2 separate regions of the Homo sapiens genome follow, and region 1 is linked to region 2. Evidence: fine-mapped expression QTL. A gene starts in region 2. The other region holds a variant in brackets. All regions are shown on one strand. Distances are between the middles of the regions.

What was found.
Region 1: its variant is fine-mapped to the expression of SSC5D in ileum (GTEx, PIP above 0.99).

What each region holds. Positions count from the first base shown.
Region 1 is chr19:54,753,856-54,766,007 of GRCh38, reverse strand. It overlaps the pseudogene KIR2DP1. Among named protein-coding and RNA genes, the nearest start is that of KIR2DL1, 9.9 kb to the left of the region's middle. RefSeq lists an enhancer at 1,004-2,203. The variant G/A (reference allele first, on the strand shown) is at 5,326.
Region 2 is chr19:55,480,790-55,492,941 of GRCh38, reverse strand. SSC5D (scavenger receptor cysteine rich family member with 5 domains) reads right to left here and starts at 4,506. Exons shown (of 14, transcript NM_001144950.2): 1 at 4,328-4,506; 2 at 3,910-3,936; 3 at 3,280-3,588; 4 at 2,947-3,060; 5 at 2,534-2,644; 6 at 1,862-2,170. The coding sequence starts at 4,352. It overlaps ZNF628 (zinc finger protein 628), which reads right to left. Exons shown (of 3, transcript NM_033113.3): 3 at 8,455-11,741. The coding sequence ends at 8,569. It overlaps NAT14 (N-acetyltransferase 14 (putative)), which reads right to left and starts at 7,754. Exons shown (of 3, transcript NM_020378.4): 1 at 7,684-7,754; 2 at 7,162-7,281; 3 at 5,376-6,534. The coding sequence starts at 7,233. The coding sequence ends at 5,986. RefSeq lists enhancers at 7,115-7,444, 9,975-10,688 and silencers at 7,545-7,964, 10,526-10,820.

The DNA.
Region 1 (12,152 bases), 730 kb after region 2:
CCTCCTTCCCTTCTGCCAGAGTGGGAGCAGCCTGAGGCCATCACGAGAAATAGATGCTGGTGCCATGCTTCCAGTACAGCCTGCAGAACGGTGAGGCAAACCAATCTCTTTTCTTTAGAAGTTGCCCAGGCTCAAGTGTTCCTTTAGAGCAACAAAAATGGACTAAGACAGCAACGTCCTGAGATCAGGAGGAACGTCCCAGAGCAGCCTGGGCTGTCTTCCTGTTCTTCCTGGAGGAGGACGTCATGCAGTGCTTTAGCTGAGTGCTTCCTGTGGCTCCAGGGTACAAAACCCAGGCTGGGCTGCTTTCTGGCTTCCCCCAGCTACACTGCAAATGGGGTGACTCCATATGTCCCGAGCAGCTTTTCTGAGCCTTGAGGGACTGGCTCACATTGAAATGTAGGCTTCTGTTTTCACTCGCTGCTTATCTGTTAGTAATGAACCTGCCTATGTAACGTATTCTCTGTGTGTTCTGTCTCCCTGGAGTGACGGTGAGTGATAGGAATTGGCGTAGGCCCAGGTGCAGTCTAGGAGGTGTTTAGGGTCTTTTCTGGGAAGACTGCACTGGGATTGACACACAGCGAATGTGCTTTAGGATTTCTACATCCACAGCATTCTTGAGTCAAACAACTTGCGTTCTCCAAGGAAAGGAAACAAAAGTGAAATCAAGATAAAAAAGCGAAATAGAGTTATCTTATGTCCAACAGCCAGGAAATCGTGTTGAAGCCCCTGTGAAACGTCCTACTCTTTGTGATCTCGGGAGACACATGTTAGGCTGCTGTTCTACCTGAGAGGCTGGGGGAAGGACCACCCCCTCCACCATCTATTGCTTCAATACCACCTGTCCTCCTGTGAATTAGTAGGAAAGGGGAGCAGGAGCTAGTGCTGGTGCTGATCTCTCATTCCAAGATCTGGACTCACTCCAAGGAGTATTAATGTTTACCTCCCCATGGTCTATCTGAATCTCCACAGGTGATTGGAAGTAGGGGTGAAGTGGGGGATTTGAGTGAGAGGGCAAGTTTTTTTTGTGATGAACAGAGCACTTTCTCTATTCCACGATCTGTGCTGGAGGATTCAGCAGGCTTTCACATTTTCTATATGGTCTCATGCTCACAGAAAGCCAAATACGGAAGAGGTTTTAGGCTCATTGCCTAATGGATAAGACAAAGGATCAAAGAAGTAATTATAGAGAAATACAAAAATGATGATTGGAATTCAGGTGCCTTTGTCATTCGTGTGTGTTTTATTATATTTATGCATTTCTTATTTTTATTTTTTGAGACGGAGTCTCCTTGTGTCACCCAGGCTGGAGTGCAGTGATGCAATCTCCACTCACTGCAACCTCCACCTCCTGGGTTGAAGTCGTTCTCCTGCTTCATCCTCAAGAGTAGGAGCTGGGATTACAGGGATGCACCACCATGCTCGGCTAATTTTTGTATTTTTCATAGAGACAGGGTTTCACCATTTTGGCCAGGCTGGTCTGGAACTCCTGACTTCAAGTGATCCACCCGCCTTGGCCTCCTGCAGTGCTGGGAATTGCCTTTTCCACGGCCTGAGCATGGGGCCGTGGCTGAATGAGTCAGTGAGTCGAAGTGTGCGTGCATGAGCTCCGTTCTCTGTTAAGGCAAAGCTCTTGCTCTGCTGAGTCAGCCAGGGTTGCTTCATGACCAACAGTAATTCATTCCTGGGCAAGTGGAACTTCTCTAAAACACCTCGCCCTCATCAAATGTTCCCTACCCTTCCCTCTCTCAAGCCCCCAGGAATTTATCCTCCAGTTAGGAATGCAGGCAGAACAAACATTGCATTTTTCCTGAGAAGGATGTCAGATTGCCAATCATTTTTCTAGCTTGTAGGAGATCTCAGCTCCATAAAATGAGAGATTAAGAGATTTCACAGAGCCCTGTTTTGGGTCCAGATCCCTTTCGCTGTTGGAGTATCTGGAGTTTGGAGATGGTAGAAGACAGGCGTACAATGTCAGAGCTGTGAGATGCTGAGTCAACGCCTGAATCCAAGGTTTCCACCTCCCCAGGTTTCCAAAAGCGGATATAAGAGGGTTCTGTACTCACCGGTTTTGGAGCTTGGTTCAGTGGGTGAAGGCCAACTATTTGAAGGGTTTCCTAGAACATGAGACAGGAGAGAGGTGAGGAAATGAGGGTGTCTGTCCTCTACTCAGTGGAAATCTTTGAGGTTGGTTCATGGCCAACACTCTGTTATCTAATATTGGGCCCTGGGAGTCCTGGGATCCTTTTTTCCGTAATTTTTGTATGTGACGGCTACTGTCTTGAGACTTCAAGGTATAAAGAGAAAACAGGAGCATCACACTACCTGATCTCAAAATATGTTACAGAGCTGTAGTAAGCAAGACAGCATGACGTTGGCATGAAGAAAGGCACATAGAACAACGGAGCAGAATGAATAACACAGATATAATCCATGCATTTACCTCCAATGTATTTTTTGTTTTTCTTTTGAGATGGAGTCTTGCTCTGTCACCCAGGCTGGAGTGCAGAGGTGCAATCTCGGTTCACTGCCACCACAGCCTCCTGGGTTCAATCACTTCTCTTGCCTCAAACTCCTGAGTAGTGGTATTACAGGTGCTGACCACCATGCTCAGCTAATTTTTATATTTTTAGTGGAGACGATGTTTCATCACGTTGGCCAGACTAATCTTGAACTCTTGGCCTCAGGTGATCCACCCACCTCGGGCTCCCAAAGTGCTGAAATTGCAGGTGTCAGCCACCATGCCCAGCCCATCCAATGGACTTTGACAAAGGTGCCAAGAACTCACAATCAGGAAAGGACAGTCTTTTCAATAAACAGTGCAGGGAAACCTGGACATCGACATGCAGAGGAATGAAACTGCACCTCTGCCTGTCACTATACACAAAAATCAAATGAAAATGGATTAAAGATGTGAGTCTAAGGCCTGAACCTATGAAACACGTAGAAGAAAATATTGGGGAAATGCTCCAGGACGTTTGTCTGAAGGAAGACATTTTGTTTTAAACCTTCAAAACACAAGTAATCGAAGCAAAAATAGACCATTGGGATTACCTCAAACTAAGCAACTTCTGCACCGCTAAAAATAAACCAACAAAGTGAAGAGACAACCCACAGATTGGGAGCAAATATGTGCAAACTATGCATCTGAGATGGGATTAATAACTAGAAATATAAGAAGCTCAAACAACTCAATAAAACAAATGATTTAATTGAAACAGGAGCAAAAGACATGAAATTTCCCCACATACGAAAAAGTGCTCAGTATCACTCATCATCAGAGAAACACAAATTAAAATCAAAGTGAGTTTTCATCTCACCCCATTAAAATGGCTTTTAGGCCGGGCGTGGTGGCTCACGTCTGTCATCCTAGAACTTTGAGAGCCTGAGGTGGGTGAATCTCATAAGGTCGGGAGTTTGAGACCAGTCTGACCCACATGGAGAAACACTGTCTCTACTAAAAATACAAAAATTAGTCGGGCGTGGTGGCGTGTGCCTGTAATTCCAGCTACTCGGGAGGCTGAGGCAGGAGAATCGCTTGAACCTGGGAGGTGGAGGTTGTGGTGAGCCGAGATCGCACCACTGCACTCAGCCTGGGTGACAAGAGCGAAACTCCATCTCAAAATAAAATGAAATAAAATAAAATGGCTTTTAGCTGCAAGACAGGCAAAAGAAATGCTGGCAAGGTGTTAGAGAAAGGAGAATCCTGGTATCCTGTTGGTAGGAGTGTAAATTAGTACAGCCATTACGGAGAAAAGTGTGGAAGTCCTTTAAAGAACTAAAAAGAGGTTGGGTGAGGTGGATCATGCCTGTAATCCCGGCACTTTGGGAGACCGAGGCGGGCACCTCAGTTGAGGTCATGAGTTTGAGAGCAGCCCAGCCAACATGGGGAAACCGCATCTATACTAAAAAAAACAAAAAGTAGCCAGGCATGGTGGCGTGCGCCTATAATCCCTGATACTAGGGAGGCTGAGGCAGGAAAATCATTTGAACCCAGGAGGCAGAGGTTGCAATGAGCCAAGATGACATCACTTGTACTCCAGCCTGGGCACAGAGGGAAACTGTCTCAAAAACAAAAACAAAACAACAAACGAAAAACTAAAAAGAGAACTTTCATAGTATCCAGCAATTTCACTACTGGGTTTATATCCAAAGGAAAGTAAATCAATATATCGAAGTGATATCTGCACTCGTATGATTGGTGCAGCACTCTTCACAGTAGCCAAGATGAGGAGTCAACCTACCTGCCCATCAGTGGGTGAATGGATAGAGAGAATGTGGTACATTTGCATAGTGGAGACTACTCTTCCATAGAAAGAAAAACATCCTGATATTTGCAGCCACATGGATGGAACTGGAGGTCATTACAAAGATTCCCATTTCTTACCCATATACAGGAGCTAAAAGGTGGATCTCATGAAGGTAGAGAGTAGAATGGTGGCTACCAGAGGCCAGGAAGAAAAGGGTGGAGGGTAAAAAAAAATATGTGTATATATATATATATTAATGTATTTATGACCACTAGACTTTACACTTAAAAATGGTAAATGTGGCTGGGCGTGGTGGCTCATGCCTGTAATCCCAGCACTTTGGGAGGCTGATGCGGGTGGATCACGTGGTCAGGAGTTCGAGACCAGCTTGACCAACATGGTGAAACCCCCTCTCTACTAAAAATACAAAAAGTAGCCTGGCATGGTGGTGCGCGCCTGTAGCACCAGCTACTCAGGTGGCTGAGGCAAGAGAATCGCTTGAACCCAGGAGGCGGAAGTTGCAGTGAGCTGAGATTGTGCCAATGCACTCCAGCATAGGGGACAGAGCTAGACTCCGCCTCAAAAAAAAAATGTTAAAGGTGGTAAGCTATATAGGTATATTTATCCTCAATAAATATTTCTCAAACAAAAGTAAAGGGTGTAGGGGTTGCAGGTGATGACATCCCTGTGTGGGTGGGAGGCCAGGATGGGCTTCTGGGAAATGGGTAATGTTGAGGGGCTGAGGGAACCTCTGATCTTCCCAAACTGAGCCCAGTCTCCCTCCTCTGGGTCTCTCCTGACCGCTTTCTCCATCTGCCTGGGTGCCTGGAGTCCTGGCCGCAGGCCTTCATGCAGGCCATGTAGGAGGGTTTGGAGGTGCCCTGTCTGCCATCCTGTGCCCTGATCCCTCCCTCACACCCAAGCTTCGTCTTCTCTCTGCATCTGTTCATCCTTCTCTCCATCCTCAGCAGGAAGCTCCTCAGCTAAGGCTCTAGGATCATAGGACATGGGACAGCCATGGGCTTTCCTCACCTGTGACAGAAACAAGCAGTGGGTCACTCGAGTTTGACCACTC[G/A]TAGGGAGAGTCACGGAAAGAGCCGAAGCATCTGTAGGTTCCTCCGTGGGTGGCAGGGCCCAGAGGAAAGTCAGCCTGGAATGTTCCGTTGACCTTGGGCCCTGCAGAGAACCTACGTTCATGGGCCTCCCCCTCCCTGGATAGATGGTACATGTCATAGGAGCTCCGGGAGCTGCAGGACAAGGTCACGCTCTCTCCTGCCAGAACCGTGGGGCCCGGCTGGGCTGAGAGAGAAGGTTTCTCATATAGACCTGGAAGGAGAAGAGGCATTTTCCTTACGGAGGATCTTCCTTGTCACAGCTCCCTTCACCTGAGCTGAGAACTCACTCCCCTGCTCTATGACCTAATGCTCTCTCTCTCTCTCTCTCTCACCCTCCACCCCATCTCTCTTCATGTCTATTTCCTCCTTCCACCTTCTCTGTCTCTCTAGGTCTCTGACCTCGCTTCCACACCTCTAGATATGTTTTCCCTTTTTGGATTGTTTTATTCTCTCTGACTCTCCTTGGATTGGTTGACTTGATGTTACTTTTTTAAATTCTAAGTTTCTCACTTTGTGTCCTGTTCATAACTTTCTGCATATTTCTATCTATTATCTATCGATCTATCTATTTATCTATTCGGTGCCTATCTACAAATTCTCTACCTGTCATCTATATCTATATATCATCTATGTATCTATCACTTGTCTATCTATCCATCAATCATCTGTTATCTATATCTATGTATCATCTCTCTCTCTATGACTTCTGTCTGCCTCTCTATCTCTATGTATTATCTATCTGTCTTCATCATCATCATCTCTATGTCTCATCTATTAATGAATCAATCAATCATCATCTATGTATCTTTAACCTATTATCTATCATCTACCTATTTATCATCTATCTATATCTATCCATCTATCATCTGTCTTGCTCTGCCTCTCGGTCTCTCTAGTTCTCTTTGGAATCTCTGCAATTCATCCCCACATCTCCATCTTTCTATGTCCTTGTGCCTCTCCCTCAGGAGTCTAATTTTAGTGCTTTTCTCTGCTCCCTTCCATCATTCTCACCACTCCTCTGCCCTCTTTTCTCTCTCTTTATGTGTCTGTGAGTCTCTCAATCTCCTTCCTCTGGCTCATTCTCTGTGTGTTTATGTCTTTGCTTTTTGGTGTCCCTGATTTCTCTCTGTGCCTCTCAGTGATCCTTTCATATGTGGGGTTATTTGGAATGTGAGCCTCAGAATCCAGTCTGGAGACCACAAGTTCACACAGCATACAGGAGTTGGTGTTCTGGGGCCATGATATCCTGGGACGGTTACTCTCCATTACATGGAAGGCAGAGGTGTCAGAATAAACACGGCATCTGTAGGTGCCACAAGGCCTGAGGCCACAGGGCCCAACTCAGGTCAGAAATATGGGTGTCCTTGGGTTCTCCTGGTAGAGAACACTTTGTGGAGGTAAAACAGAAATGAAACTTCTAACCTGTGCCAGGTCTCTGAGCAAAGTCAGCATGGAGGGACACCTCTCTCTGGGACATGTCTGTCTGTCTGTCTCCTTTAACTCCTTCTGTCTTTTCTAACTCCCGGTATGGCCCCTGTGTCTGTCCTCTGTTATGACACCTGGTCTGTACTTGTGTCTCCTGTTTCTCTGTCTCTGTTGGTACAGACCTCACCAAGTCAGTCTCTCTCCATAAGAATACCAAGCTCATCTTCCTTACAACTACCTGGGGGTTCCAAGTCGTGGATCATTCACTCTGCATCCCAATGACAATGAGAAGAATGTCCGGACACTCTCACCTGTGATGACGATGTCCAGAGGGTCACTGGGAGCTGACAACTGATGGGGGAGTGAGTAACAGAACCGTAGCATCTGTAGGTCCCTGCCAGGTCTTCCATCATGGGACCGATGGAGAAGTTGGCCTTGGAAACCCCATCATGGTGCTCTCCAGTGAGGTGCAAAGTGTCGTTAAACTTCCCTTCTCTGTGCAGAAGGAAGTGCTGAAACCTGACATCTGACCAACATTGCAGGATGACTGTCTCTTCTGATTTCACCAGGGGACCTGGGTGGGCCAGGAGGGAAGGTTTTCTGTGGACTCCTAGGAAGAGAGGTTGTGAGTTTAGAAGGTGTCTCTCTTTATCATCCCATCCATGGCACCTAGAATGAGTGAGGCTTCCCCTTGCTGGTGTCTGTCTCTCTCCTTCCTCTCTGTGTCTTCATGTTCTTTTCTGTGCCCATAACTCCTGGTGCAGGTCCTTCCATCTGTCTCCCTCCCTCTTCTCTGTCCCTCTGTCTCTAGTCGCCTCTGATTCCCTTCCCACTGGGCTTAGCCTCATCTCTTGGGGTGTTGTATCTATTTCACACTAATGTCTTTCCTGCTGTTTATGTGGGGGTGAAAGAGGAACCAGGATAGGCTGCACATCCAGCCTCTTATCAGCCTGGTTCAATCTCTTTTGGATGAATTGGAATCCTTGGCAGTAGGTATGAACTGATGAATAAGGCAGGCACCAGTGTCCACACACCCTGTTCCTGGTCGGGACTGGGAGCCACTCTTGCCATGCCTGTGCCTTCTCCATGGTGCCAGCTTCCATAGGCTGGCTCCTGGTGCTGGTTTGAGGAGTATCAACCCCTCCCTATGTGGATGGAGCCTGGTGGTGGCATCATCATCCCACACTTGCTCATCTCGGTGTAGCCAACCTTCCCCTTGTTTGGTTCCTTTAATTAATTAATTAATTATGGAGACAGAGTCTCACTCCTTCACCCCAGCTGGAGTGAAGTGGTGTGGTCTAGGGTCACTGCAACCTCTGTCTCCTGGGTTCAAGTGATTCTCCTGCCCTCAGCCTCCCAAGTCGCTAGGATTACATGCGCCTGCCACCACACCCGGCTATCCTTGTGTTGTTTCTTACCTTGTCCTTGACCTGGGTTCCAGTGTTGGTTTCCTGTTGCTGCTGTAGAAAATTATCAGAAGCATGGCAGCAGGAGAGAGCACACTGACCCATTTCACTACTGGAGACAGAAATAGGACCCTGTTTTTCCTGGGCTAAAATCAAGGCATCTGCAGGGCTTCGTTCCCTCTGGAGACTCTGGAGAATCATTTCCTTGACTTTTCCAACCTCTACAGGCCACCTGCATTCATGGCTCCTGGCCTTCCTCCACCTTCAAAGCTGGTGGAGTCTCCCATTGCGCTGCTCTAATCCCCACTCCCCTCTTCCTCCTCCTTTCATGTGGACCCTTGTGATTACACTGAGCCCAGCGGGACAGTCCAGGCTGTCTCCCCATCTCAAGGTCAACTCATCAACAACCTGAGCTCCATCTTCCCCTTCAGTTCCTTCCCCTATAACATAAATAGTCACAGACTCCAGGGATTAGAATGTAGTCATCACTGGGGACAATTATTCTTCCCACCACAGCACCCATTTCCCTGTATTCAATCCCCCTTTACCCCAAATATAGTCAGGGCCTGGGTGATGGGACCCTCAAGGACACGCCCACCAGAAGCTCTGGGATTCAGGAGGTGGGAAAGGAGAATCCAAGACAGGAGCCCTCTGACCTGTGGCCATGATCACCAGGGTGTTGCTGGGTGCCGACCACCCACTGGGGTAGTGTGGGTGTGAACCCCGACATCTGTACGTCCCTGTGTGTGCTGGGGTCACAGGGCCCATGAAAAGGCTCTTCCAGAATATTCTGTTGTAGAGCTCAGTGCCAGGCACCCCATCTTCCTTTTACAGACTGAAGTTGTTAAACCCAAGATAAGAATGACACCGAAGAATCACATGTCCTGGAGGCACCACAGAGCTGGGCCAGGCAGACAGCAAGGGCTTGTCCTGACCACCTTGGGGAGAAGGAGGCACCGCCTTAGAGAGGAGGATGTGGAGCCACCCCTCCCTCCCTGTGCTCTGAAGATTCTCCTCGCTTTCCAAGTTTCTATGGCTGCTATCACACCTTGGTGCCCAGGGCTAAAGGAAGGACCCATCCCGCAAACACAAGGTGTCTCCCTACAACAAAAGTGTCAGCTGAGAACTTTGAGCAAGTGCTGAGTAAGAGACTCCTACTAGATTTTAATACTGTAAGATTACTCACATAAAACAACACAGGGTAGACATGGGGTGGAGGGCATGTCTTTGAGAATGGAATATCAGCAGATGCCTGAATGAAAATAAGCAACTGAGCCCCCATCAGAGGATTTGGAATGTCAGGGCCATGGCTGTGGTTTCCCACCTCTTCTGGTGGAGTGACAGCAGCCACACTGCAGCCCCTACCGTCATGGAAACGCTGAAGTGTGAGTAACACCTTTGTCCTCAGAGGATCTGCTGTTCCTACCACTTCCCCACCACGCACCCCAGCTTTGAGCACCCCAGTCTAACCCTGGTCCCCACAGAACTTGACTCTGCCAAGGGAATGAAAGGCCAGGGAGGCGAGGTCGGAACTGTGGGCCGAGCACCCCAGGGTCCCCTCTTCCTAGTTTATGAGAGGCTCCCTGACAGGACTTCCCTCCTGTTTCAGGAAAATCCTCTTATGTGGGGAGATGACACCCTAAGGTTTGGAGAAGGACTCACCCTCATGTGGCCAGGCCCCCTGCAGCAAGAAGAACCCTGGAAAGAAAGATCATGATGGACGATCCATCTGCAGGCAAACCAGCCCTCCCTTGCTGCCCTCACTGGGCTGTGAGTCTTGGTAGGCAGGCCCTTCCTGGACTGAAGTTAAACTCACCCTCAGTGCCTACCTGCACCCAAGAACAGGGCTGTCGGCTGTGCAGAGACCCAGCCTCCAAGCCCAGATCCCCACCACAAGCCCATATCCCCACCACAAGCCCATATCTCCACTCCAGGCCAATATTTCCACCCTAGGCCTGTATCTCCACTCCAGGCCCATATCTCCACTCCAGGCCGATATTTCCATCATAGGCCCATATCGCCAATCCAGGCCCATATCGCCAATCCAGGCCAAGATCTCCACTGTAAGCCCATATCTCCAATCCAGGCCCATATCTCCACTCCAGGCTCAGATCTCCAACCTAGGCCCATATCTCCAATCCAGGCCCATATCTCCACACCAGGCCCATATCTCTACTGAAGGCCAGTAACTCCACCTCCAGGCCCATATCTCCACTCCAGGCCCAGATCTCCACCCCAAGCCCATATCTCCACCCCAGGCCCATATCTCTACTGAAGGCCCGTAACTCCACCTCCAGGCCCATATCTCCACCCCAGGCCCAGATCTCCACCCCAAGCCCATATCTCCACTCTAGGCCCATATCTCCTCTCCAGTCCCATATCTCCACAACCAGGCCCATATCTCCATCCTAGGCCCATATTTCCACTCTAGGCCCAGATATCCACCTCTAGGCCCATATCTCCACTCCTGGCCCAAATCTCCACTCCAGGCCCATATCTCTACTATAGGCCTATAACTCCACCTCCAGGCCCATATCTCCACTCCAGGCTCCTATCTCCCCTCCAGGTTCCTATCGGCACTCCAGGCCCAGATCTCCACTTCTAGGCCCATCACTCCATCTCTAGGCCCATATATCCACTCCAGGCCCAGATCTCCACTCCAGGCCCACAACTCCACCTCCAGGCCTATATCTCCACCTCTGGGCCCAGATCTCCAACCCCACACTCCCTTCCTCTATTCCCTTCCAGGACTCACCAACACACGCCATGCTGACGACCGTGAGCGACATGGTGCTGCCGGTGCAGACAGGCGGCCGTGCCCCAGCTCAGCTCAGCAGCGCACAGGATGTTATTTGGCGCCCTGCCCATGCAGTTTACATGTTGACCACATCATGGGAGGGTGACGTACGCAGGCTCATTCTACCTTGCATGAGGCCCAGTGGGTGCTCGCTCAAGAGCGGAACACGGCTTCCTGGAAATTGTTCTCACTAGAATTTACACCTAGCGTCCTTCACTATGACCAACTCAAAACACGTCTCAGATCCAACCTCCTGAACACGAGATGCCTAAAATCTGTGCTAACGTGAAAGACTTTTCATGTATTTTTATTGTTTTTATCTGAGATTCAAACTCTTCTTCATGTGTAATATGCAAAATATTTAATAGGTATTATTAAGGTTTTCAGAGTCATTGTGACTAATAAACCATTAGAATTTTTCATGCTTGTATTTCTAGTATTACAGCAGAACCAGTTAAAATGATTTAAATTCCCAGGGAAGGATTATGCAATTATTTACAATGTTAGAATTGTACTTTATCAGCAAAAACCACACCTGTAAATTCTGGAGTTTTGTAGTTTAATCTAAAATTTGTCTCATGACCCAAGATTCCAGAGTCCCAACTCTGGAGTTTGATCTCTCTCTGTCTCTCTGCCTCCCTCATTTTAAATTTTACAGAAATATCCAGTAACATAATGCTATAGAAAATCAAGTTTCCCCAGCACGTCGGGAAGCCGAGGTGGGCGGATCAACTGAGATGAGGGGATTGAGAGCAGCCTGGCCAACATAGTGAAACCGTGTCTCTGCTAAAAATCCAAAAATTAGCCATGCCTGGTGGCAGGCACCTGTAACGCCAGCTACTCAAGAGGCTGAGGCACGAGAATCGCTTGAACCTGGGAGGCGGAGGTTGCAGTGAGCTGAGATTGTGTCACTGCAGTCCAGCCTGGGCGACAGAGCAAGACTCCGCCTCAAGAAAAAAAAAAGCAAATAGCCTATAATAACAAATTAGAGGGCTCTGGCTACTAAATTTAAAGGGTTCTATAAGGCTACATAAAGTGTAGCATCATCAAGTGTGTGGACACAGACAGCCCCTTAGCAGAAACTGTCTAAAATACATCCATGTACACACAGTCCCTTTAGAGTTGACAAAGGCTGCCGTGTGGTTTAAGGTGGCATAGA
Region 2 (12,152 bases):
CCTCCCCGCCTCAGCCTCTCCCAAGTAGCTGGGACTACAGGCATGCGCCACCATGCCCTGCTATTTTTTTTTTATTTTATATTTTGTAGGGAAAGGGTCTCACTATGTTGCCCAGACTGGTCTTGAACTCCTGGCCTCAAGAAATCCTCCCAAAGCACGTGGGCTACAGGTGTTAGCCTGTAACCATGCCTGGCTCTTCGGGTACATTTCTGTTGGGGTAAGAGTTGACTCATCATTGGAGGACTCTGGAGTCCCTCTCTCTGTCCCCCAACGAGGCAGGTGCAGAATTGCCCCCAATCACTGTTCTAGAGAAGAGCACAGAACTAGGGAGGAGTCTAACACACCTGTCTGCTTTTCCTCATCTGCAGACAGGGGAGGGGAGCGTCTCCCTCCCGGGGTTGCCATGAGAATTAAATCAGATGCTGGCGAAGCTCCCAGCTTCACCGGGCGCCTTAGTTCATTTGTTTCCTTTCTTGGCACCTTCACCCTCTCCTCTCCAGAGCCTCAACTTCCCTCCAATGAACTCTGCTCCGAAGGTCCCACTTCTTCCCCCACAGCTTGTACACTAGGCACACGAAGGCACCACCCCCACCCCATACAAGCCTTCTCTGCTGCTCACTCCCACTCTGACCTCCGTGTCCCCACCACGTCCCTATGGCCGACTGTGCAGTGGGACAGGCATGGAGCGTGGGTCTATACAGACCCAGAGGGGTCAGCGGCTGGGGCTGGAGCTTGCTAGGCACCTGGGTCTTGGGCCATTTACGTCACCTCTCTGAGCCTCGGCCCCACATCTGTGAAGAGAGGGATGAGGATCCACCCCGTCCGGGCTGCGGGAGGCTCAGAGCGGCCCCAGGTAACGTGCACAGCGCAGGGCCCAGCATACAGCAGAGACTAGGGTCAGCCTCTTTCTCTCTTCTCTCCCCCCTGGATACCCACTGATGTCAGCATTTCCTACCCATCCTGGGCAGGCACCCAGCTTTGCCTGCAGCCCGTGTACTGTCCCCACCCCAACGCTGATGAAATGCCAGGTGGGTGCCCTCTGCCTGCCGGCCTCCTACAGTCAATGGATCGGGCAGTCCAGCAGGGTGGGGCCTGCCGTGGTGGTGTGTAAAGATTTGTGGAAGGAAAGAAAGGAAAGAGAAAGGGAAAGAGGGAGGAAGGAAGGAAGGAGAGAAGGAGGGAGGGAGCCCCTGAGCTCTCACCTAACACCCCCCAACCGCTGTTTGCTGGGTTCTATCCCAGGTCCAAGGGGTACAGGAGAGGGGAGGGACCCCCTGGGAGACATGAGGGGAGGAGACCCCGCGCTGAGGGGGCGTGAATGAGGGGAGATGGAGGCTCACCCGTGGGTGTCCCCACCCTGCCTCAGTCTCCCTCCATGCCCCCAAGTCACCGCCCTCCCTCCCTCCTTCCCACCAGCTCCCTTGAGGATGGGGAAGGAGCAGAGGTTGGCCACAGAGACAAGAGGTCTCCGAGACGGTCCCCTGCCATGGCCAGCCCGGTGGCAGAGGGCAGGCAGGGCTTCTTGCGTTCCAGGACTTGGCTCAAGCCTGAGGCAGGCATTCTTAGCTCCATCGCTCCTTCAGGAAAACTGAGGCTTAAACAAACGGTCACTGGCCTAGGCCCCGGGACAGGGCTGAGCACTAGCCCAAGCCTCAAGCCTGCTCCTCCCATTCCTGGCAAGGAGAACGGCAGGAGCTGTGGAAGGAGGGGCTGGAGAGCGTGGTGAGTGGGCGCTGGGCATGCAGAGAGCAGGCGGGCAGGAGGCAGAGCTGGGAGCAGGCCCGCTGCAGCTTCCTGGAGGGGCAAGAGGGAGCTGGGGTCTGAGGAAGACAGGAGGGGGCCAGGCCCCAGCCCGACGTACCGGTGCAGACCAGCCCCGCATCCTCGCTGTGGTCACAGTTGCTCCGGCCCCAGGGGCTTCGGGGGCAGTCTCGGAGGGCCTGTTCTCCTCCTCCACACCCCACATCGTCCATCCACACGGGCCCTGCACCAGGCCCGAATCTGGCACCGCCGGGGGCAGCCAGCGCCCCCCCACAGCCCAGTTCCCGGCAGGCTACAGCAGCGTCGCGCAGGTCCCAGCCATCGTCACATACGGTGCCCCAGCGCCCGCCGTGCCAGACCTCCAGGCGTCCGGCGCACCTGTGGGGGCCAGAGACCAGGCGCAGCCGCTCTGTGGGGTGAGCAGGGAGGGGACGGTGTGGCCAGTGAGAAATGATTCAAACACCCCTTCCTCGATTTCCACCTGGGGAAACAGGCCTGAGGGAGCGGTGGCCTGAGATCTGTCCGCCGGCAGCCCGTGAAGAGGTGAGTCCACGACCTGAGCGGGCCAGGACACCTGGGCCTCCTGACAGGGCAGGAAGAAGAGGGGAGACCAGGCCTGGCCGTCTAAATCCCCGGGGGAGGGACGCGGGGAACACTGGGATCCCTCCAGGGCCCCGGCTAAGGAGAGGGCGCCCGCAGGTCCTCAGTTTTTCTGGGCCCTGGGCCTCACAGCAACCAGCCTTGGGGTCGGGGGAGCCTGCAGGGAGCTTACCTTGGCGGGGGGCTCCTGTCGTCAGCAGAGGGGCCCGGGTGGACTTGGCCTGCTTGGGCCGGGGGCTCTTCTTCCGGGAGGCGTTCTGGGGGTTCCCAGCTGGGCGGGGGGCTGGGAGTGGAGACAGCCAGGGGTCAGGAGCTGAGCCCCTCATCCTTCCTCCCACCTGGGGGCCCAGGCCTCCGTCTCTGAGGGTCTGAAGTGATGGAGGACTCCCTAGGCTATGAAGGAGACGGGGCGGGGCAGGGGGCGGGCTGTGTGTCCCCTGGGAGTTCATACTGCAGAGGTCCCTCTCCCCTCGGTGGGGGCAGGAGGGCACGCTGGGTGGGGGTTGGCAGGGCAGTCCCTCTCCCCTCGGGGGGGGCAGGAGGGCACGCTGGGTGGGGGTTGGCAGGGCAGTCCCCTGGGCTCACCATGTGTCACCAGGGGCTCCTCCGTGCTGGGGCTCAGCTCCAGCAACAGCCCTGGCCAGGGAGCCCCATCCAGGGGAGATGTTGAGTCGTCCCTGGAGTTAGCCACACGCTGACCTGCGGCGGGGGGGCAGGGACAGAAGCTATGAGGAGAGGAGGGGAATCCAGGCCATTTGGGTCCCTGGAAGAGGGAGTTAGCCACCTGGCTTTGGAGGGGATGGGAGGTTGGGTGTCTCTGAACTGCTGAACACTCAGACTTGCTGGGGCTAAGGACTTGGGGTTCCTGGGTCATCTCCAAAGGAGCTCCCCCTGAAGGAGCAGCCAGGGTGTCCTCACCTGCGCAGACGACGCCCGCGTCCTCCTCGTGGGAGCAGATGTGGGCCTTCCAGCCCCGGTGGTGGCAGAGGCCCAGCTGCCCCTCGTTGCCCCGGCAAGCCAGCTCGCTGAGCCACACAGGCCCTGCCCCCTCCCCGAAGAAGGCGCCTCCCGGGGCGGCCAGTGCCCCTCCGCAGCCCAGCTGCCGGCAGGCCACGGCGGCATCGCGCAGGTCCCAGCCGTCATCACACACGGTGCCCCAGCGCCCGCCATGCCAGACCTCCAGGCGGCCAGCGCACCCATGGGGGCCATCGGCCAGGCGCAGGCGCTCTGAGGGTTGGAGGAATGGCTGTGACTGGGGAGGGGCATCCTGGGGGCCCCAAGGCCAGGGCAACTGTAGGGGCAGGTGGCTGTCCTGCAGGTACTGTCTGTAGGCCAGTGGCCCTGCTCACTGGCCCCTGGGCCCAGACTCCTGGGTGCTCAGAGAGATGCGGCCAGACACCTGGGGGATTCCCTTGCGGAGCTGGGGCCAAGGTCACAGTGGAATTCGGATGGGCCGGGGACCCAGTGGGGGTGAGGCCAGGCCTGGATGGGCAGAAGGGGGAGGCCTGGGGGGGGGGGCGGGCAGATGGGAGGAGTCTGGGCACTTACCAACAGCCTGGATCCCCACCAGGGCCGCTGGAAGGGAGGGCGGAGGGTGGGGCAGTGTGAGGGGCAGGCCGGGGGTGGCCCTTTCTCCAGCGCAGGCCCCTCATCTTGAATACCCCAACACACACACACACACACACACACACACACACACACACACACATGGGCTTGGCTAAAGGTCAGATGTCTGGGAGATCCCCCGCAGGGTCAGGGCTGGGGGGCGGGCAGGGGGCAGGTCCCTTGGGCTTCTGGGCTGGCAGAAGGCTGGGCAGATTGAGCAGGGATCCTCAGAAGGGATGTCAGGGTATGCAGGAGCACCAGCGACCAGTCCCGGAAGTTTGAGTCCCTAAACTGGACAAGCTAAGGGGTCAGAGGTGGGGGCCTAGGCCCCCCGAGTCCCCAAGGAGAATGGATCACTCACCAAGGAGGCAGGCCAAGACCCTCATGGTTGCAGCCAGGGCAGGGGATGGGGTGAAAGGGGAAGGAGAGCGGGGAGAGAAGAGGAGGAGGCAGCTGGGGAGAGAGGGAGGGAGGGAAGTGCCTGCTGGAGGCGCCCAGGCCCGAGGAGGAGCAGGCAGGGCTGGACGCTTTGCCAGGAGGAAGAAAGAGGCTGCAGGGAGGCGGCAGGGGACGGTGGGGGGGAGGGGGGGCGGGAGGGGGCTGGCCGTCTGCTGAGGCATGGGGGGGAGGGGGGTGGCGGGCGGGAGGGAGGGTGTCCAACTGCAGACACCCACACGGGAGATGGAGACGACGGCCAGGCAGGCTCCAGCCAGCAAAGTGCTGTGCCCAGAGATGCTTAGGGGGTGGCCGGCTGCAGGAAGGCACAGGACAGGGGTTGGGGGACGTGTGCGGGGGGGGCGCAGCATGAGCGGGAGGGGCGCCCACCTGCTGTCTCCCCTCTTGTCTGGTCAGGGAAATCCAGTGAGACCACTGCTAGGGTTGGGGGCTGGGCAGACCTGGGGTTCTTGGTGCAGCAGCAAGAAGATTTGCAGCCAGACACCAGGAGGGACTTCCTGGGTTAGGAAAAGAGACTGAAAGACCCGGCCCTCCAGTCCTCCCACTCACTGGTGGATCTGAGTGTGAAGCCCCCAGTCCCCAGCTGAGAGAGGAGAGGTTGAACTTCACTGTCCCAGAGGGAGCTGGGGTCGGGGGATAAGCAGCACAAGGGTCAAGGCTTGGGAAGGGGAGGGGCTCCACACACTCTTCCACACACTCACACACACACACACACACCCCACTGCCTGCACACCAGGCAGCTGTGAGGCGGAAAAAATTCGGTAATGGGGAGCGTGACTCAGAAGGGCTGGCAGGGCCTCGGGCTGCCCCTGAGCTCACAGCCTCCCCTTCTCCCAGTCCAGCACCGTCCCCCAACAATTAATGTTAACTGGGGAAAGGAGAAGCCAGACAGAAATGGGCGGGGGTGTCCGGAGACAGACTGGGAAAGCCATCAGAGAAGAGACAGGCACACAGCGGTTTCAGGCTTTATTAACAAACGGTGTAAAAAACCAGACGGATCTGGAGGAAGGGACAGGGCTGCCCGTCTCAGCTCTCAACCTTCCCAGAGAGGGGCCAGGCCTGGCAGCCCTGTGCGTCGCGCCTCCTAAGCAGTCAACCTTGTCCCCTCCAAGGACAGGCATCTGACCCAATCCAGGTCCCAGGGAGGCGGAGTCGCAAACCCTAACTCTGGGGTGTATTCTGCTCGGCCTCCTCTCCCCCTCCCCAGATAGCTCTCCCAGCCTGGGGCACGGACAGCACAGACTTTGCAGACATCACCCGGGGAGGTTTCTCAGTGCAGACAGGAGCTGAGGTAGGGGTTGGAGAGGCTGACCTCGAGAGGCCCCCGAGGGCCAGGAAGGAAAAGGAGTCATTCCACTCTGAGAAGCTCAAACACAACAGACTTCACACTGCTGACGGGTGGACAGAGGCCAGGCTCCTCCCCTCGGCAGGCCTCTGTTTCTGGGCCCAGGGTGGTTGAGGACTCACTGAGGGAGAGCAGGTAAAAGAACCCGCAGACAGTAGGCGATCATCAGGTGCTGGCGCCCCTCCCTCCTCCCCTGCCCTGGCTGTCAGTCTGTAGCTTCACAGGTCTTTGCTGAATTCCCTCACCAGCGTGTAGCCCAGGCAGCCCCAGCCCCCCTCGGCCTGGTAGCCACAGCCCTCCAGCATCCCTCCCACCCCCCAGGCGGCCACAGCCACGGGGACCACGAGCCGGGCCCGGGGCTCCCCCATGCCCCCAGCCCAGGCCCGAGCCCGGGCCTCCGCGAAGGCCAGCAGCCTCCTGCCCACGCCCCGGCGGCGGTGCCAGCGAGAGACAGACAGGCGGGTGACCCGGGCCCCGTCCCCTGCATTTGTGCCAGGGGCCAGAGCCAGGACCCCACACACGTCACCGGAGCCCCGCACGGCCACCCAGGGGCCCCCCAGGCCACCCGGCGGAGGCAGCGAGCCCCATCGGGCCCGCAGGCCCAGCTTCACGGCGGCCACAGCCAGGAACACCGGCAGGAGGAGGGCCAGGGCGAAGGAAGCCAGGACAAAGCGCAGGCCGCTGCTGGCCGCCGCCAGGAGGAGCAGGGCCGGCGGCCGTGTCAAGGCATGGAGGGCCACGCGGTTTTCCGTGTCCTTCACGCCGGCCTGTGGGCAGGAGGGGTGGCTCAGCCATCCGAAACGCTAGGGCCTCCTGGACAAAGAGAGGAGGTAGACCCTGCCCGGGGCGGGGTGAGAGCTCCCAAATGGGAAGGGAAGGCAGCACAGTCCGATGTTCAGTGTGGCACACTGGGTATGGAGTGAATGAATGAACGAGAGCGAATGATGGATGGATGAGTGAATTAGGAGCTGTGGGGGCACTCAATTCAGTAGCAATGCCGCAGTGAGGCCCCAGGGAAGTAAGGACAGGGAGGTTGCCTCAGGCTGGAGTGGAGGCTGGAGGGAGGCTGCTGGGCTAGGTTGGGGTGCTGGGCTGTGCTTTGAAGAGTTGGGGTCCGAGGCACAGAGCTGGCTGTTGTGCTGGCGTGCACAGCCGACTGGAGATGGGAGACCAGGGAGGGCGTTGGTGCTGGGGTCCCAGTAGGGCTGGGGGGGTGAGCCCCCACCTGCCACACCTGCTGTGGTTTTCAGCAGCAGGGCGGCTGAGGCTCAGGAGGAAAAGATCCCGCTCCAGGGGTCCAGGCTGGCTCAGGTGGGTGGGAGGGGGTGGCTGAATCCACTTGCAATTCCCCCACTGCAGCCACTCCCAGGCCCCCTGGGGCCCCTGCCTCTCACCTTCAGCATCTCCAGCACCAGGGGCTTCTCATCTTCCCTCATCTCCCGCACTGACAGGTGGCTGGGGGCCATGGCAACCCCCAGGCCCCGGCCCCCCAGAAGGGAGCTGGCGTCGTGCACCTGGTGAGAACATAAGTAGGTCAGCGTCAGGGGGGCACCTCTGTCCCCAAAGCTCCCCCGAGGGGTAGGGAGCAGCAACGGCACTTCCCAGATCAGGACACTGAGAACCCTCGGGGCCCCCAAGCGAGGATCTCGGCAGGACAGGCGCCCCCCACAATACTCAGCGACCTTGCTAAAGTCTCCCGGGATCCCCCCTCCCCCGTATTATTCAGCGATCTACACTCCCAAACGCGCTGCGGACGCCAACACTGCAGCACGGGGCTCCCTCCCAGGCACTGGGGTCCACGAACACCCTCCCCACATGCCAGAGAACGGACCACGCTCGCTCCACCCCGGTCCCCAGCGCCCCCTCCCCCACAGTCGTCCCCGTCCCGCGCCACAAGAACAAGGACCAGCAAGCACCTGCACCGGTCGCCTTTGGTCCTTCGACAAGGTTTCGGGAGCGGGTCTGGAAGGGGGTCGCGGGCGGAAGTGACGTCAGACCGCGCGCGGTGGGGCGGGGCGGCGCCCGCTCCGGGCCGTAGCAACCGTTGCTAAGCTCCCCGGAGGGCGGGCTGGGAGGAACCGAGCTGTGACCCTGCGGAGGGCCGGGAAGCGACCTCTCCTATCCCTAGAGAAGGAGCAACGGGGAAAGGGGACCTGGGGAAGAACGGGAGCGGAAGCCGGCAGGAGACGGGCGGCGGGCTGGGGACCAGCGCGAGCTCCCGCCCCACGTTCCCTCGTTGCTGAGCAACCTGAGCGCCGGGCGGCGACGCCAGCGCGTGGATTCTCATCCGTGCCGGGGCCTTCGCGGGAGGAGCCGGCCACGCTCAGCATCCTGGCGCCCGACTCCCCCATCCCCAGGGACCCCACTCCACCCACGGGGCGCCCGGGGTCGCAGAACCCTTCCGCATAAGGATCCCCCTACTTCTCACACGAGGGGGGCAGCGGGGCGACCTACAGTGAACAAGTAGCACTCCCTGGAGTCTGATGTCACCACCTCCCCACTATAATGACCCCTGCGGCCTTTTTTGGTTTCAGGACAGGGGAACTGAGCCCTACGTAGTGGCTGGCCCCAGGATGCAGAACAAGCCATCTGCGACCCAGGACGCAAGACTTAAGACTCCACGCTCCCAGGCGGGGGCTAGGACCATGACTTTGCCCCCTTCCCTCCCCCCAGGAAAACAAAACACAGGCGGGGAGACTCGGGTCTTTATTAGCAAGCCCAGCCTGCGGCACCCTGCCCCGCCCCGGCTGGCAGTGAGTCGGGGTCTCTGTGCGGGGCGGGAGGGGAATCACTGCCTCTCCTCAAAACGTGTGCACCAGCTGGACTGCGGGTAGAGTCTGGACAATCTGGATGGAGGGCAGGCCCTGAGGGGTCATAACACCAGGCCCAGCTCCTGCGGGGACCACTTGCACCATCTGGGAGGCTGGAGCCCCGGGGAGCCCCGCGGGGCCCGAGGCTGGGCCTGACGGCGGTGGGGCCAGGAGCTGCAGCGTGGCGGTGCCTCCTCCAGTGTTGCTGCTGTCCAGCAGCTCAGTGGCTGGGGCGCTGCGGATGATGAGGAGTTTCTGTCCGGGTGGGCCGGTGGCAGGCGGCTCCGTCAGCCCAGGAGGAAGTGTTTCTACCTCCTGTACGCAGAGTCGAGTCTGTTCGCCATCGGCCCCGCTCAGCACCAGCACGCTCTGCAAGCCCTCGTCCGTCTGGAGTGTCTCAAAGAGGACATCCTGGACCACACCAGTGCTGGCCTCGCCATCCCCCGCCTCCCCGGGGCCCGGGCCAGTGAGCAACTCCTCAGCTGCCCCGCTCTGAACAACCAGCAGGTTGGGTGCCTCAGTAGCCACAGCTCCCCCACTGGAATTGGAGAGCTGGCCGGCCACGGGCTGGAGCTGGACCGTGGTCACCTCCTGTGCTGGCTGGAGCTGGACCGTGGTTACTTCCTGTGCTGGCTGGAGCTGGACTGTGGTCACCTCCTGCGCTGGCTGGAGCTGGACCGTGGTTACTTCTGGGGCTGGTCGGAGGGGCTGGAGCTGCACCCCACTCATTTCCTGTGGCCCTGCCTCCCCACCCCCCACATTCTGCAGAACGATGAGGCTCTGCCCTGTCCCGCTGGCCCCAGCGCTGGCCGCTCCCTGCACCCCTAGACCCCCAGGGCCTGGCAGCCAGACCACTCCCGCCCCCTGGCCCGCTTTCCCCACTGCCCGCGGGCCCTGCCTTGCACGGCCGCCCCCAGCCCCAGCACTGGAGGAGGGCAGCAGGATGAGCTTGGGAGGTGCGGGAGGGGGCGGAGGTGTAGGGGGCTGCACGCTGCTGGGGATCAGCTGGAGGCCCTGGGCAGTTTGCACCAGGAGGAACGTCTGAGAGTTGGGCGCTGCTGGCCCCAAGCTCGGGGCCTGGGCCGTGCCCCCCGCCACCTCGAGGGAGAGCGTGGCCTGGAGGTGGGGCAGGACGTGGACATCTTGGGTGGCTGGCGGGGCCCGCGCAGCAGCCAGTGGAGCAGGGGGCTGGGGGCCGGCGGCAGGGGCTGTGGTGCTGGGAGGCGTGTTGGCCGGGGCGTGCGTCCTCAGGTGCCGCTGCAGATAGGCGGCCATAACGAAGCCGCGACCGCAGATGGGGCAGGTGAAGGGGCGCTCCGCCGAGTGCGTGCGCTGGTGCAGCAGCAGGTTGGAGGAGTGGGTGAAGGTCTTGGGGCAGAGCGGGCAGCGGAAGGGCCGCTCGCCCGTGTGCACGCGCTGGTGCTGCCGCAGGTTGGAGGTCTGCGCGAAGCTCTTGCCGCAGACACCGCAGGCGTGGGGCCTCTCGCCAGTGTGCACGTGGCGGTGGCGACGCAGGCACGACGTGTTGCGGAAGGCCTTGCCACACTCCCCGCAGGCGTAGGGCCGCTCGCCAGAGTGCAGCCGCAGGTGGTACTGGTAGTGGGACGACCACTTGAAGGTGAGGCCGCACTGGCCACAGGTGAAGGCCCGCAGGCCCGTGTGCACCCGCTGGTGGATGGCCAGCAGGGAGGAGCGCTTGAAGGCCTTGCCGCACTCGCCACACTGGTAGGGCCGCTCGCCCGTGTGGTCCCGCAGGTGGTAGCGCAGCCCGGAGGAGCCCTTGAAGGACTTGCCGCACTCGGCACATTTGTAGGGCCGCTCCGCAGAAGCGGGGGCGGACGGGGGTGGCGGCGGGACGGGGGCGGCAGGCGCCAGCGGTTCCTGGGGGCAGGTCACCTCCGCAGCCTCAGCCTGCGGGGGCGGGCGCCCGGCCGCGGCCTCTTCCACGTGGCACTGCTGATGCGCCAGGAGGCTGGCCAGCTGCGGGAAGGAGCCGTCGCAGCTGCCGCAGCGGAACGCTTGCCCGCCGGCAGCCCCGTGGCTGTGCTGGTGGCGGGAGAGCCCAGCCACCGTCCGGAAGGACTTGCCGCAGGGCAGACAGGCAAAGCCAGGCGCGGGGGCGGCGGCGGGAGGAGGGGGCTGCGGCAGAGGGGACGGTGGCTGGTCGGCCTTGGGCGCCTCGGCGGGTGCCTCCTGGGGCTGGGGCGCCGCATCGGGCCCGGGGCACGGCTGGTGCTCCAGGAGCAGCTCCTCGCTGCTGAATCCCTGCTCGCAGCCATCGCAGCGGTACACCAGCTCCACCGTGGTCTCCGCCGCCGCCAAAAAGAGCTCAGGCACCACGGGCGGGGGCGGGGGCGGCGGGGCGGGAGGCGCGGGCGGGCTGTGGGGCTGGAGGTGCCGCTGCAGGTAGGCGTCGCACACGAAGACCTTGCCGGGCTCCCGGGACTGGGGGGGCGGGGCCGCGGAGGCGGTACCCGGGGCGGGGGCGGCGCCGTGCGTGCGCTGGTGCAGCAGCAGGTTGGAGGAGTGGGTGAAGGTCTTGGGGCAGAGCGGGCAGCGGAAGGGCCGCTCGCCCGTGTGCACGCGCTGGTGCTGCCGCAGGTTGGTGCTCTGCGTGAAGCTCTTCCCGCAGACTCCACAGGTGTAGGGCCGCTCGCCGGTGTGCACGTGGCGGTGGCGCCGCAGGCTGGACGAGTTCTTGAAGGCCTTGGGGCAGTCCGGGCACGGGTAGGGGCGCTCGCCTGTGTGCTGCCTTAAGTGGTACTGGTAGTGGGACGACCACTTGAAGGCCAGGCCGCACTGGCCGCAGATGAAGGCCCGCAGGCCGGTGTGCACGCTACGGTGGATCTGCAGCAGAGAGGAGCGCTTGAAGGCCTTGGGACAGTCGGGGCACTGGTAGGGCCGCTCGCCCGTGTGGCCTCGCTGGTGGTAGAGCAGGGCCGAGGAGCCTTTGAAAGCCTTGGGGCAGTCTGGGCACTTGTAGGGCCGCTCGCCTGTGTGCGTGCGCTGGTGGTGCAGGAGCCGGGACGACCACCGGAATGACTTGCCACACTCCCCACATTCGTACTGGGCCGCCGGGGCAGGGGCCGCAGGGCCTGGCTTCTCCCCGGCCCCCTCCGCAGTAGAGGCCGGCGCCATGTCCGCGTGGGAGCCGACCATCACACCTGGGGGAGGGATTCTGGGTCAGCGGCTCACCCCCGCACTGGATCATCTCAACCCCAAACCCACACACGGGCTCTTTAAGGGACAGGGACTACCTCCCCAGGTCACCCACTTTGCAGGGGACCTTCCTTAGGATGAGGGTCTCCAATGGTCCCAGTTTGCTTGGGACTTGAGCAGGTGCCAGCGATGCTGCACTTTCAGTGCTGAAATGGAAACTCCCCAGCAAACTGTGGCCACCCTCCTTAGGAGGCTAGCCAGGTCTGAGAAGGCTGGGGCCCGCCTTCAAGAGAGCAAGCACTGCCTGTAGGAGTCTGCTCCCTCCCTCTCCAGACAGGCAGGGTCCCTGAAGACCACACGCAGAGAGGCTCTCCTGGCTCCTCCTTGCTGCTCTCCCTCTAAGACCTTATCCTCCA